2 separate regions of the Homo sapiens genome follow, and region 1 is reported to be linked to region 2. The links are microRNA targets in miRTarBase. Many come from high-throughput screens and were not tested one by one. Region 2 holds a microRNA gene; the other region holds the end of a gene's coding sequence.

Region 1 (7,232 bases), not on the chromosome of region 2:
CCCTACCCTCAACCACACAGCCCAGCCAGGCCTCCCGGGCCCTCACAGAGCCTCTGAGCGGTCGAGCCGCCTCCCTTCTGGGGGCTGACACCCCTGTTAAGACCTACCACAGCTGCCCTCCTCTATTCAAGCCCTCACATCCCCAGAAGCGCTTTGCTCCGTTTGGAGCTCTCAACCCTTTTTCCGGGCCTGCCTACCCCTCAGGCCCTTCAGCGGCCTTGTCTTCTGGGCCCAGAACCACCTCGGGTCCTGTGGCTACCTCTGGCCCTGCGTATTCCCCAGGCCCAGCCTCGCCAGGCCAGGCCTATTCAGCTGCTCCCCCCTCCTCCTGCGCCCCCTCCTCCTCCTCTTCTTCTGAATGGCAGGAACCAGTCCTGGAGCCCTTCGATCCCTTTGAGCTGGGGCAGGGCAGTTCTCCAGAGCCTGAGCTGCTGCGTTCTCAGGAGCCCAGAGCAGTGGGGACACCTGGGCCTGGACCCCGCCTTTCACCACTTGGCCCCTCCAAGGCCTTTGAGCCTGAAGGTTTGGTGCTGCACCAGGTCCCCACCCCACTGTCACCAGCTGCTCTGCAGGGACCCGAGGCGGGAGGAGCACTTTTTCTAACCCAAGGGCGCCTGGAAGGGCCTCCTGCCAGTCCCCGGGATGGAGCCACAGGCTTTGGAGTCCGAGATGCCTCCTCCTGGCAGCCCCCTGCTGACCTGTCTGCACTCTCCCTGGAGGAGGTCTCTCGCAGTCTGCGTTTCATCGGGCTCTCAGAGGATGTGGTGAGCTTCTTTGCCCGAGAACGCATCGATGGTAGCATCTTTGTGCAGCTCAGTGAGGACATCCTGGCAGATGACTTCCACCTCACCAAGCTGCAGGTCAAGAAGATCATGCAGTTCATCAAAGGCTGGAGGCCCAAGATCTGAACTGCCCAGCTGGAGCTGCACAGCTGGAATGCTGGTATGGGGGCCCCAGGTACAGCACTCCGGAGGAGCAGGTGCTGCCTGCAAGAAGGATCTATGTCGAGACTGAGGCTGCTCAGCAGCCACTGGGTGGATCCAGGGGAGATGCATGTGGAAATGTGGTCCTCTGGGGTCAGACCCCTGCACGGGACATCTTGCCTTTGAGTGTGCAGAGTACATGGGGAAGGGGCTGGGGGCACCACTGTGTACCTGGGCCCAGTAAGGCATTTGCCGTGATTCCCACAACGGGGTCAAAAGCTGGCCTTCAGGGTGACCTAACACCACCTCATGCCCTGCTATAGACCTTCACAAACGACTTCCACTGCTGAAGCCTGTAGGCTCTGTTTAGAGACAAGAAGATGGCTGGTAATTTAAGCACCGATTTCCCAAGTGCCCACTCTCCTTTGTGCTCTGTTGGCTTTTGGCCTAAAGCTGCCCCAGAGTGAGGGTGTAGATGTCTGTGTCTGTGAGATGCCTTTCCCTTCCCCCTCTGCTCCACCGTGGTTGAGGGGGGTGGGGCCTGGCCCCGCACACAGGTGAGTCGTGTACAAGCCTAACCCATGGCACCTCAGAGGCTCCACCTGTGGGTCCTGGTTCATGGGTGACAACTTTGGAAGAGCACAGCTCTGCAATTGACCCGACCCACTTATCTAGTTAGGAAGCCAGACACTGCCCAGATGACTCTAGCACCCTGGCTTCTGCTCTGACTTTACTGCAGCTAGTCATCCATCCGTCAGGTGGCGTTCAGTCTCAGAATACTGATTCCGTGGAAGAGCAGGTTGATTTAGGTCAGCTTCTCCTTGATTCTAGAAGCAAGCGGTAGTCAACCACCTCCAATTCCGCCAATCTCTTGCCCCCATCATTTGTCTCTGACAATACTTGGTGTTTTTCCCTGGTTTTCTGTCACTGGCACAGGAGGGTACAGTTGGGAGAGTGCGTTCCTGGAGCTCAGTCCTGCATTTGTTCACGTGCCTCACAGCAGGCCTTTGTGCCCTTGAATCTCAAACATGGGGATCTGCTTGGTACCCAGAGCTCTGGTCATTGTGTCCAACCACACACCCCACCCCATCCGTGTCCTCCATCTCACCCAGAACCACAGGGTGCCCACTAGTGTCAGGGCCCAAAGTGCCAGCCTTCTCTTCTGCCTTACCTAGTCTACCTATTTATTTCCTCCACTTTTTATCTTAAAAGTAGCTAAGCCATGCTGGTGCCCATACTCCAAGCAGGCTGCCTCAGCTCAGAGAAGTGGTCAGAGAGTAGAGCACAGAACCTGTGATGTGGGGACATTTGGTTTTCTTGCAGATCATTTAATGAATCCTCAAGGACTAATGAAATAAATGCTAGACTGCTGAAGATGAGTACAAGTGGCATTCTGGGTGCCAGCTGCTTTCTTCTTTTGAAAACAAGGCCATGGGGACCCATGGGCACAGTGTATATGCCTTCTGGCAGGAGAGGACTGATGGAGGAATGATGTGGGTGTGTGGCCATTCCCATGTCTGTGGAGGCGGCTGGTGGCAGCCTTCATTCCCTTCTGCAGGGCCCTCGCCAGCCCCTCCCTACCCTTCAAGAACCCCCACCCCAGCTTCCACTAGTTTCAACATAATTCACACCTACCTGGTGTTACTGAAGGGAAAGACCCAGGCTCAAAGCTGAATGCCACCAGCCAGGGCCCAAGCTTAGCTTCCTGCATTGGCAGAATGCCGGCTTCAGGCTCTCTCAGACCAAATTTGGAAACCGGTTAATGGCTTTGGTGCAAGGGATCAGCTCCCTACTCTGGTCATCTGAAAACCTCAACTCAGAGGTGACTTGGTTTTAGAGTCTGGCTTCCTAGTGACCAAGCAGAGCCAGACCTGATCTCCTTGCCTGCCAGTCCCAGCTACAGAGCTGGGACCAGGGACATATTTGAAGTACAACTGGAGCAGAGGCAGGAGTAACTGGTAATATCTGACAATTTAGAATGCAGAATGTGATGGGACTGGAATTACGATTCCGCACACACTCAGCGTGGATCCTTCTGCCAGACCCAGTTAGCCCCAGTGCTGTTTACCCAGACTGGGCACTGCTTCTGTAGGAACTTTCCATCCCAGGGGGTGGGGTGGGGAGGGGCTGAAGCTTTGGGGGAGTGCAGGTGCTGTGGGGGTCAGCACTCCTCATGCTGCTCCCGTGCTGCCTGATTACCGCACAGGCATTTCTGGGGCAGCCCTGCTATGCAGGATCTCCGAACATCAAGGGAGATGTCAGCGCCTCTGCTTAGCACCAACGTTCCCACAACCATCCCAAGAAGCACCTATGAATGAGGCACACCCAGAAAAGAAATGGGTAAGATCACACAATGAGGAAATCCAGGCTGGGGAAAGAGGTTTAATATCCCGGTACACCGTGGTGAGAAGCCTGGGCAAAGCATCTGCACAGACAGGTGTGTGTGGTTGAGCCCACCAGGTCCCACTTTCTCTCATCCCAGTCCCTCCCTAAGGTGCTGCCTAGAATTCTGCACACACATTCTTACTCCCCCAAAGCACAGGGCTTTCTTCCAGATTGCTTTTTGAAGGAGGCGTTTAAACCAGAAGGGCAAAGATGCTGACACAGAGTTTGGTTTTTATTGTTATGTGTTTGGCTGGGTGCAGAACTGCCCTCACCACCCCTGGCCACCCTGGCCTCTTGGGAGGAACAGGCAGAGAGGTGGCTTCAGATGGCTCTTGGCTGCCACTCTAGGCCTCGGGGCTTATACAATGAGCAGTGGGCTCTACCTTCCAACAGGAAGTGCAAACTAATTCGAAGTCACACTTCACCAGGAGGGAGAGATGGTCTTGGCTGAAGGCACTTTAATCAGGGAGCAAACCCAGTGCCGGAGTTTGTCTTCTCGTTACTCTGATAAATCTAGACACCACTCTGTTGGAGAACCAGCACTGCCGGCAGCTGGGGTTAGTGCACTGACTGAGCGAGGCATGAGGCCTGCTCACTGGTAGAACTTCTTGTTAGGGCTGTTAGCATGGTCAGCTAGCAGCTGGCATGGGGTGAACTGTTTTCCATAGGCAGCTTCATATTTCTTGAGCCGGTCCACTATCTTCTGGGCGCCATACAGATCCACAAAGCGGAAAGGCCCTGAATAGAGAAAGAGGACTTCGTTGAAGGAGACGCAACACGGGCTCCAGGCTAAAGTGAGCTTCCTTCCCAACCTGCGAGACCAACCTCCCAGACAAGGCGGGAAGCCAAGCCCAAAGACGGCTCCGATGTCTCCCTCTGCAGGTGTGGCCAAGATCCCCTCTTGCAGGCACATGACTGCCTCATTCACAAATCTTGTCACCAGGCGGAACTGGATGTCTTCGTCTGATGAGCTGCCAACAGAAAGAGATGTTTAGGTAGAAGAAGAGGAAAAGGGGAGGAAAGCCAGAGCCGCAGATGCAGAATGGAAGTCGGGATGGGTGCATGGGGAGCTCTGTGGGCCGGTTGGTGCTGGCCCTCAGAGAAGATGCTGCCTGGGTGAACCAAACTTTCCCATGGAAAAAGTGGAGAGTAACTTGCCCTAATTAACATGAAACTGAGCACCTAGAACAGGGCCTGGTGCCGAGAAGATAATCAGTATCTCTTTGACATCAGCAACAGTCAGCTGCTCACAAATGATAATAAAGATCTGGGAGGGTGAAGGGGCCAAGGAGAATCTGTCCTTCCAGCGGCTCTCTGGGAACTTGCCAGAGAAGGCTGGAGCAGGGGAGGGCCTTCACCAGACGTGGCCTGGTTCTCACCTAGATGCTGGGCAGAGACCAAGGAGCACGTGCGAGGGCCTTCCACTTGGAAAGCACCATGCCAGCATCAGGAGTGGTCCTCCTGTTCAGGTATGGTGGTCACAAAGAAAATGGAAGACAGCACCATGGCACGTGTATACCTATGTAACAAACCTGCACATGTATCCCAGGACTTAAAGTATTAAAAAAAAAAAAAAATGGAAGAGGGGCTGGGAAGCTTTGGGCTGTCAGAGAAAGTCAATTTCCAGGCATTAGCCACTCAAACGGACTTACACTTCAGACTTAGGAGGCAGCTTCAGACTCGCTAAAATACTATCCATGTCAGAATTCAAATCCTTCCTCTTCACACCCTCCTGATAGATGTAAAAGCCCTTCCCAGATTTACGACCTAAAACAGGCAAGAAAAGGGAGTGTTACTATTTGTTCTCAGGGAGGGAGTGTTACTATTTGTTCTCAGAACCCTGGCCTGGCCAGGCGTGGTGGCTCACGCCTGTAATCCCAGCACTTTGGGAGGCCGAGGCGGAGGATCATTTGAGGTCAGGAGTTTGAGACCAGCCTGGCCAACATGGTGAAACCCCATCTCTACTAAAAATACAAAAATTAGCTGGGCGAAGCAGGAGGATCGCTTGAACCCGGGAGGTGGAGACGAGATTATGCCACTGCACTCCAGCCTGGGCAACAGTGTGAGACTCTGTCTCAAAAAAAAACAAAAAACAAACAAAAAAGACCCTGACCTGAGAATTCTTGTCTCTGTTGGTCTATTATAAAGCTCTGGCCTCTTCTGAATTCCTGAATTTGTATGTCTAGCTAACCCTAGCAAATTAGTCTTTGTCAGAAGAGTGGGCAGAGAAGGAAAGAAGATCTTGTGACCCGGAGCTTGGGCATCTGTGTACATGGATGAGAAAGGCCACCTGGGTGAGTTTTAACATCCCCATATGCAGCACCGGGTCCTAGAACACCCAGGTTGTAATGCTGATTTTGCTGTTTTGCCAAGACAGAAAGTCACTTCTCTGTGGGCCTCAACTGTATACTGTGTATGGTGAGCTTATACATTCTCCTCACAGGTGGCCAGACAGCATGGTAAAGCCCGGATGCAGAGCTTGCTTCTGCACTATTGCAGATTTCATCTCTGGGGGATAAAAATGCTTGTCCATCTGGCATAACTTGGACCAGGTGATGCTAGAGCCCCAGAAGGGTAGAACTCTGCCTTTTGTCCATAATCTATAGTCCTAGCCCTTAGAAGGTTCACATGACATCTTTTTTTTTTTTTTTTTTTGAGAAGGGGCCTCGCCATGTTGCCCAGGCTGGCCTCACACTTCTGGGCTCAAGCGATCCTCCCACCTCAGCCTCCTAAGCAGCTAAGACCATAAGTGGTTGCTACCGCACCTGACTCATAAAATCATTTTTGAAATCGCCAGTGATAAGGGCTCTGTGTTTAGAAAACTTTCTTCCACGAGGGCTTCTGTAACTCTTTGGTCTCAGGAACTGCTTAGAACTTTGTAACTAATGGTGCTAGTTATGTTTCCTTGAGGCTACTCACCTAGGAAGCCCTTGGACACCATCTGTGTCAGCAGTTCTGGGTTTCCACCTCCAAACCGCTCCCCAAAGACTTTGCCCAGATCTTCCGCCACATGTTTCGCTACATCCACACCAACTTCATCCACCAGTGTGGCGGCACCCACAGGAAAGCCAAAGCTTGTGGTCAGGGAATCCAGCTTCTTCGGGTCAACTCCTTCCTGAACAGGAAGCGATGCAGGGACCTCAGGGGAAGGGCAGCCCAAATCCCCCCAAAGGGCTCCCTGTACTGGCTCCAAACACTGCCTTGTGTAAAACCCACTTCTGAGTGTCACCTGACCAGGCCCAGGACTGGTGCTATTTCATTCAGGGAAGCACAAAGAAGTTTGGGGCCACAAGTGGAAAGTCTGAGCCTTCTCTAATCTACAGCACTTTAAGGACGTTTAGAGATGACTAAATTCTTCATTTTCTTCTTGTTTGCATTTCTGAATCTCAATAATAAGGAGATTGCATGACAGACGGCTGAGTGTGTCATGACCAACAGAAGAAACATCATCAAAGAGGAGCACTCAGAGCCCTGTGATCCCCAAGTCTGGGTAAGTGCCCAGCGAGGAGGATCCCTCTCCTTTCCTGCCAGAATGACCTCGATGGCTACTGGAGAGGTCTGTGTGCTGTGGAAACAGATGCAGCACCAGTTGAACCAAGCGGGCCCTGTTCTGGATGGTCCCTGCCTCAGAGAGGTGCAGAAACAGCATAGAAGACATGCTGGGGGGTGGGGTGCCTTTAGCTTGCTGGAACAGTGAGGAGGCTGTGGGGCAGAGGGAAAGCTCTGCCCCTTTCAGTGCAGTATAAGCCCAACTTCCGACTGCTGTGCAGAGAGAGGGCACCAGGGACCTTCCTAGACAAGAGCAGGAGTTGGTGTATCAGAAGGAAGCTTGGTCCTTATCTTGACATCATGAGTTTTAGAGTGACTGAAGGAGTGGAAGATGCCGCAAACACTCTGGAGAGCAATACCAACCTGGAGGATTCG
Region 2 (7,232 bases):
CACCGCCAGCTCTGTGCTGACCGCCCCACTGTGTCTAGGCTCCCTCCCTAAGCAACTTTGCTCATGCACAAGGTCAGTCCTTCTGTGTGCATTTATTAAGTGCCTCCTTTGAGTCTGAGGCTACAGGAAAAAAGTCAGTGGCCGCCACTCCTGGGGGCTTTCAGGCTGGTGGGGGAAATAGCCCGGTGTGGGTGATGGGGCATGATGGGGGCGCTAACATCCCAGCCACAGAGCATCCAGGGAGCCAGTGAGTGGGGTAATGGGGGGCGGGGCGGGGGGCCAGGCAGGTGTCCGCGAGGGAGTGACCCTTGGGCAGGTCTTGAGGAGTTCTGAGAGGGGTTGGAGGTGAGACCCAGGCCAGGGAAATGTGCATGGGCCCAGGGCCTGCTGGGTAAAGGACACAGGTCAGTGGGCTCAAGGAGCTGGGGGAGGGTGCTGGATCCGCCTTGCTCATGCATTGGAACAGGTCTCCAATAGCCCTCGCAGGCCTTTGTGGGATCGCAGTGCTCTGCAGAGGCAGATGCAGGAGGACCCCCAGGGCAGGGTGGCTGCTGTCTGCTCCCCTTTCACCCTATGCCAGTGCTCTGAGTCTGAGGCCTGACAGCCCCAAGAGGGTTAGAGTCCAGGGCCCTACCATCCAGCCCATGTATCCTGAACACCTACTATGCTGGTGGGTGGGGGAAGCAGCCAGGGAGGATGAGTAAGTCATGGACCTTGCCCTCAAGGAGTCTGAAACTAGCACAGGATTAGATAAGCACACAGGGCTCCTTAACTCTGTAGGGAATGAGATAAGGGTGGCGGGAGAGGCCCACGAAGCCGGGGTGTGGGCAGAGAGGGGAGCAGCGCCTGCAGAGTCATGGGATGGTCTGCAGGGAGGGGTTGCTGAGCTGGGCCACGGCAGGGGCCAATCGGGGCCCAGGGATTCAGAGCAGCCAGGACAGTGTGAGCAGAGCTGCCTGTGGGAAGGGGAGAGAGACAGTGTCTTAGGGGCCAGATGTTTGTTGGCTGCCTACAGTCCCCAGGAGAAGGTCCAACTTGCTCTGTGACTTCAGCAAATGTGCACCCTCTCTGAGCCTGTGTCCTCCTGTCCCAAACAGGTTCATGATGGATGCCAGGAGGACCAGGTCCTGGATGTGCGTGCCCAGCAGACAGAAAGGGCTCAATAGCCAACGCCTGTTATTAAGCAATTTGACATTTATTCCTAGGTCTCTATTTCCCATTTTACAAATTTTATTTTGTAGTACCAGAAACCTTTTTATTCAAATGAAAAATTCTGACAGGGCACAGTGGCTCATGCCTGTAATCCCAGCAGTTTGGGGGGCTGAGGCAGGACTGCTTGAGGCCAGGAATTTGAGACCAGCCTGGGCAACATGGTGAAACCCCATCTCTACGAAAAATACAAAAATTAACCAGGCATGGTGGCACGTGCCTGTAGTCACAGCTATTTGGGAGGCTGAGATGGGAGGACTGTGTGAGCCCTGGCAGGTGGAGGCTGCAGCAAGCTGTGATTGTACCACTGCGCTCCAGCCTGGGTGACAAAGCGAGCAAGACCCTGTCTCAAAAAAAAAAAAAAAAAAAAAGGAAAATTTCCTCAGAACCCCGTTGTATAAGAAACAGGTGGGGCTGGGCGCGGTGGCTCACACCTATAATCCCGGCACTCTGGGAGGCCGAGGTGGGCAGATTATCTGAGGTCAGGAGTTCGAGACCAGCCTGGCCAACATGGTGAAACCCAGTCTCTACTAAAAACACAAAAATTAGCTGGGCATGGTGGTGCATGCCTGTAATCTCAGCTATTTGGGAGGCTGAGGCAGGAGAATCGCTTGAACCCAGGAGGCAGAGGTTGCAGTGAGCTGAGATCATGCCAGGAGGGGAGGCTTCCTCCTGGGAGGAAGCCTGTTGCATTCCAGCCTGGGCAACAGAGCAAGACTCTGTCTCAAAACAAACAAACAAACACCACAAAGAAATAGGTGGAAATGAGGCTGTTGTGGGAGGCGGGACAGGGGTGGGGTCAGCTGTCCTGTCCTGGGTTGGCTGCTCTTCCTCTACCAGCAGCTGGGGTCCTGGGCCCTCTTAGGAATCCTAGGGGCTGGAGAAGCTGCTCCACCAACCACAGGGCTGTGCTCCAGGGAGATGAGACTGGCAAAGGAGGGGAGAGTAGGAAGCAGATGGGGAGGCTGGCTCAGGGCCCCATCCTGGGTGGGGGGGCTCCAGCACAAACACTGGGCCTAGAGCACTCAGCCCCCCTTGGCCACACTGCATGTCGGTGGGTGCTTCCTCAGGGTGCAAGACAGAGGCTCAGGATTGGTTCAGCAAACATTTATTGGGCACGCGCCTGGGCTGGGAACTGAGCTCACAGATGGGGAGAGGAGCGAGACATAAGCAGAAACCAGCACCGGGGCTCCGAGAGGGCAGTGCTCTGCGGCAGCACTGTGTGGGGGTGCCCAGGTGGGGACTTAGAAGCTTCAATAAGGCCTTCTGGAGGCAGCAAATGCTTGGACAGAGCTTGAAAGGGTTAGTAAGAGTGAGCCTGGCAAATAAGCTAGGAAGAGTATTGCAGCCCAAGGGAACAGCATGGGCAAAGCATAGAGGTGCCACAGGGCAGGCAGGGCAGGGGCAGGACTGAAGCTGTTCAGGCTCATTCACGGGGAATGAGACAGAGGGAGGTGGGACCATGAGTGCTGCACTGGGGTCGCAGGATCTCTGCTGACTGCTGGACACCCCCGGCCCTCCCCTATCCCTGCAGGTCCTGGTGGCTGGCATTGAGGCGAACATACCTGTGACCTATGGAATTGGCAGCCAGAGGGGAGACGAGAGCACTGGCTGTCAATTCATAGGTCAGAGCCCTGTGCACTCGGTCTCGGCAGCCCACCGACAGCCCTCCACTACCCGCCACCATCTGGCCTGGGAGCGTCGCCACGGTAGTCCTGGCTGGTCTGCTGGCCAGCACCTGCCTCTCCTTCTTCGTGGGTACTGGCCCTCGCCCCAGATAACAGCAGCCCCACTGGAACCAGTGGGCACTTCCACATGGAGTTGCTGTTACAGGGGGCGGGAACCAATTGGAGACCGGGGCCCTGCCTGGCGTCCGCCTTCGGCAGGGCTCTGGAGAGTGTCCCATGCCCACTCACCTGGGCTCCCCAGTCTTCGTGGCCCCAGGTCCATGGTCTTTTCACCGAGGCTTCTTATCATCCGGGGCCCACACCTGGCGCCCCGTGTGCTGCCAGCACTCCTTCCTGGGCAAAGTCCAGGCTCAACCCCAAATCGGCCTCATAAAGCCGGGAGCGGCTCGGATTTACAACTCCTGGGCAGCCTTTGCCCGCTCTGATGACCCCACGCCCTCTGTCCCCAAGTTATTTTGTTTCCTTGTTTCTTTCCCAACCAGAGCTGGGCCTCAGTTTCAGGTTTGGCCACTGTCACCTCTGCCCTTTGCCCACCCTCCCTGCTGCAGCCATGGGGCAGAGAGACAGCAAGGGACAGCTGGCACTTGTCAGTCCCCAGGGACCTCCCAGTGCCTGATTTCATGAGGATGGCCTCGTATGGGAAGCTGAAGATGAGACTAAGAAGAAGTGTGGGGGGCTGTGTGGGGGAGGGCACAGAAAGAGGGATAGTGAGGCAGAGGGGCTGAGAGAGGAAGAGAAGAGTAAGGCCGAGGATGGCGGTGCACACCTGGCATCCCAGCACTTTGGGAGACCAAGGTGGGAGGATCTCTTGAGCCCAGGAGTGCAAGACCAGCCTGGGCAACACAGTGAGACCCCATCTCTACAAAAAATAAAAAATTAGCCTGGTGTGGTGATGCATGCCTGTGGTCCCAGCTACTCAAGAGGCTGAGGCGGGGGATCACTTGAGCCTGGGAGGTCGAGGCTCCAGTGAGCTGGGATTGTGCCACTGCACTCCAGCCTCAGTGACAAAGAAAGACCCTGTCTCAAATAAAAATAAGAGGAGCAGGTAGAGAACTAGAAAGGAACAGAGAAAACAAACAGGGATAGTGGATGACGAGGTGTAGGAAGGGGGACGACAGGGAACTGGAAAAGATGTAGATACACAAACCTGCCGCAGAACATGAGGAACAGGCTGTGAGCAGTGGCTCGCCTGGAAGGACGCTTAGGACCTCAGTGGCCTGGAAGACAGCAGGGGCCTGGGAGCTGGGTGACCTTGAGCAAGTAGCGTAACCTCTCTGAACCACTGTCCATATGTCAATCAGGACTTACGAGGCCACCCTGCACGCTGGGCTGGCCTGGTGGGAAGCATCCGCCCTGGGACCCTTGGGTCTCTCTCCGCTGTGGGGAGAGGAAGCAGCTGCTGGCCAGGGTCCCTGAGTGAGCCCAGGGCTCTGTGAGGCAGAGCTTCCTCTTGCAAAGCGTGTTCTCGTCCCTCCCAGACAGGTTCCGGTGACAGGTGCCAGTCCTGCAGAGACCCAGCAGGCATTTTGGGAGACTCCAAAGCTTCTGGAGAGAAAGGGGAGCTTTTAGAGTAGACTTGGGCCCTGCCCCCTTTGCCAGTGGTGCATACAGGCCTAGAGAGACAGAGGGGGCCGCCCAAGGTCACAGAGCAGGGCCCCAGGGCCTGTGCTGCCCCAACAACCTTCCCGAAGTGGCGTCCCCCCTTCTCAGGATGCAGTCAGGGTGGGATGGGGGATCCCTGGGCTGGAATCCTTCTGCCTGGGGGGACAGACCTGCGAAGGAAGACACCGTAGCTGGTGGCTGGCCCTCCACTCAGCCTGGCGGCCCTTCCCACAGAGGCCTGGGCGAGACCAGCCTCCTGCAGCGTGGTGTCCAAGTGCCCTGGCCTGGCAGAGACAGCGCCCGATCAGGAATCCTGGCTCCACAGCTCTGAGCGCTGATGCTAAGGCCCCCTTATCCCACAGTGGAAACCAAGGCACAGAGAGGAAGGGGCTCGTCCCGGCCACCCCATGGCTGTCCAGGTCCCTTTCTTCCTCAGGATTGGCCACCCTTCAGAGAGGTGCCTGGGTTCAGGAGCCTCCTAGGACAGGGAGGGCGGCAGGGGTCCTACCACTCAGGAAGCCTCTTACCTGAGTGCCGGGCTGGCCTTCGGGGCACAAGGAGGAAGTGGGGACACCCTGGGCCCAGGGCCTTTTGAGCCGTTGACCCAGCCCCTGGTGGTGGTTAATGATTATCCCACCACCGTCAATACTGATCACAAGTGCGGTTCGAAGGGCAGGAAGCCCTGGACTGTGCCCGGGCAGGGTGGGGCGGGTCCAGGAAGCATCAGGCTGGGCCCCATCTGCCTCTCCGGGTGGCATCAGCACCGAGTCTCCACAGCCCTGTCTCCTCCAGGGCCTCGCCCTCCTGGTCTCTTACCAGCCTGCTGCCCCAGCTGTCCGTGGGCAGCCAGGACCCCAGGGTCCCTCGGGACAAAGCTTCTGCTCTGTTCCCAGTACCCAGATCTCCCCCACTCAGAAGGGGCCACAGAGCAGGGCTGGGGGACCTTTGCTAACCCCAGAGGCCTGCGGAACCTAGCAAGGTGAGGGTTCCCTGATTCCCAACCCGAGCCTTGGTTTCCCCATGGACCCACCCACCTCTGTGCAGCGCCACTGGGAAGCAGGGCAGGGAGGAGCGCGATGGGAGCAGCTCACAAGAAACAAGATGTGTGGGGGGCAATGGGCGCTCCCTGGTCCTGTGTAAAGCTTTGTGCAGTGAGGGTTGGGATTCCGGCTGCAGCGCTGCTCCAGCACCCCTCCCCCCTCCAAGTGCTGGAGCTGGGACCCCAGATCAGAGTGGAAACCAAGGGGCCAAGGCCTGGGCCACCCCAAAAGCCCCCACTAGGGATGGTGAGAGCAACATCTAGAATGCCTCAGGCTCAGCCTTCCCCGAGTGGCCTCAAGTGACAACCAGGCAGGGTCAGCTGGGCTCCAAGGACCATCCCTCCCTCCCCTGGCAGCCCCACGTAGCTCCTGCCACATCAGGAGTGGGGCTGGAGTGGCAGCCTCCTGGGAGGGGCAAGGCAGAGCCCAGAGCCAGGGGAAGGCGTGCAGGGCTGGGTGCCTCTGGGTCCCCCTGTGCCCTGATCTGCTGGGCAAGGCCAGGAGGCATGGCGACCCCTGGTGGTGACATGGGAGGTGCTGGGTGCAGAGGTGGGATCTGGGGCGGGGCCAAGGTCAAGGCTGAGGCCAGGGTTCACAGGGACAGAGGATCTGAGAGGGGGGCTGGCGGTGGGCAGTTTATTCCACTTCATGCAGACACTGACCCACGCACTCACGGAGCTTAAAAATAATACATCGAACCACACGGATATCATCCCCTCCTCCCCCCAGACACAGAAAGACACTTGGCTGAGTGGGATGGGGTCCGAGGGTCCAAAAGCCTCCGTCCTGGGAGAAGGCAGCAGTGTGGGCCCAGGTCGGGGGAGGGGCAGTGTCCTTTCTCCCCGGAGGAAAAGTGCAGAGCCAGGGCTAAGGCCCCAAGGCAGGGAGGCCCCCCTCTCACAGCAGATTGGCAACGGGCAGGCTGGGAAGGCGTCCTTCACAGTGGCCATCCCCTGAAGGGCCAGGCCGGGCCGGGCCCGTGGGCTGCAGCTCTTGGGAGGCTCAGGAGCATGGTGGGCAGCACCCTCTGGGTGCCGGGCACCCCAGGCTCAGTCTTGGGCACTGTCCGAGCGCCACTTGAGGGCGTGGTCCTTGTGGGCGTCGGGGACAATCTGGTTGCGCATGCCCCCGAGCAGGCTGGACGTGGCCTCCGTGGCCAGGATGAGCGGCTTCACCACAGTCGGGGGCAGCTGGCGGATCACGCCCCCCACGGCGCCCGTCAGCCCCTTCTGCTCATGGCCCCGCGATGCCACGTCACAGATGGTCTGAGCTGTATCCAAGATGCCCTGTGGAAGCCAGAGGTCAGGGCGGGGTCTGTGTGAGGAGATGGGCATGGGGGACTGGGGCAGGGCGGGGGCCTGGTCACCTCTCGCACTGTGTCGTAGGCCTTGGCCACACCCTCCCGCAGGTCGGCAGGCTGCTGGCCCCTGCGCAGCCTCCGCGCAGAGCGCTTATCCTGCAGGGAGCGGGAGACGGGGGCTGCCGGGGACAGGATGTCATACACGGTCTCAGCTGTGGCCTGGGGGACATGGGAGCACTGGATGAGGACAGCTGGCTGGGGCACACGTCAGCCCCAGGCCCCCAGGACAGTCTGAGACCCCACCAGCCCTCAGCCTCCCTGCCTGTCACTGTGCTGGCCTAGGGGGTCCTGCTCAGCCTCACTCCCCACTTCCTCCCACTCTTCCTCCCCTTC

What was found. The annotated mature microRNA hsa-miR-192-5p reads CUGACCUAUGAAUUGACAGCC and lies in region 2 at 2,819-2,839, opposite strand. An mRNA with a match to its seed (bases 2 to 7 or 8) in the 3' UTR can be bound and repressed. Matches are read on the target gene's strand: a 7mer-m8 pairs with bases 2 to 8, a 7mer-A1 pairs with bases 2 to 7 and ends in A, and an 8mer does both.
Region 1: the mRNA of GAREM2 is a reported target of hsa-miR-192-5p. Seed matches in the 3' UTR shown: 7mer-m8 at 1,730-1,736.

Annotation. Positions count from the first base shown.
Region 1 is chr2:26,187,350-26,194,581 of GRCh38, forward strand. It overlaps GAREM2 (GRB2 associated regulator of MAPK1 subtype 2), which reads left to right. Exons shown (of 6, transcript NM_001168241.2): 6 at 1-2,314. The coding sequence ends at 908. It overlaps HADHA (hydroxyacyl-CoA dehydrogenase trifunctional multienzyme complex subunit alpha), which reads right to left. Exons shown (of 20, transcript NM_000182.5): 16 at 7,221-7,232; 17 at 6,228-6,423; 18 at 4,961-5,075; 19 at 4,134-4,279; 20 at 3,286-4,046. The coding sequence ends at 3,901. Among named protein-coding and RNA genes, the nearest start is that of GAREM2, 18 kb to the left of the region's middle.
Region 2 is chr11:64,888,385-64,895,616 of GRCh38, forward strand. It overlaps MIR192 (microRNA 192), which reads right to left and starts at 2,862; the gene lies at 2,753-2,862. It overlaps ATG2A (autophagy related 2A), which reads right to left. Exons shown (of 41, transcript NM_015104.3): 40 at 6,906-7,058; 41 at 6,162-6,825. The coding sequence ends at 6,589. MIR194-2HG (MIR194-2 host gene) reads right to left here and starts at 5,065. Exons shown (of 3, transcript NR_133640.1): 1 at 5,027-5,065; 2 at 4,206-4,442; 3 at 74-956. It overlaps MIR194-2 (microRNA 194-2), which reads right to left and starts at 3,055; the gene lies at 2,971-3,055.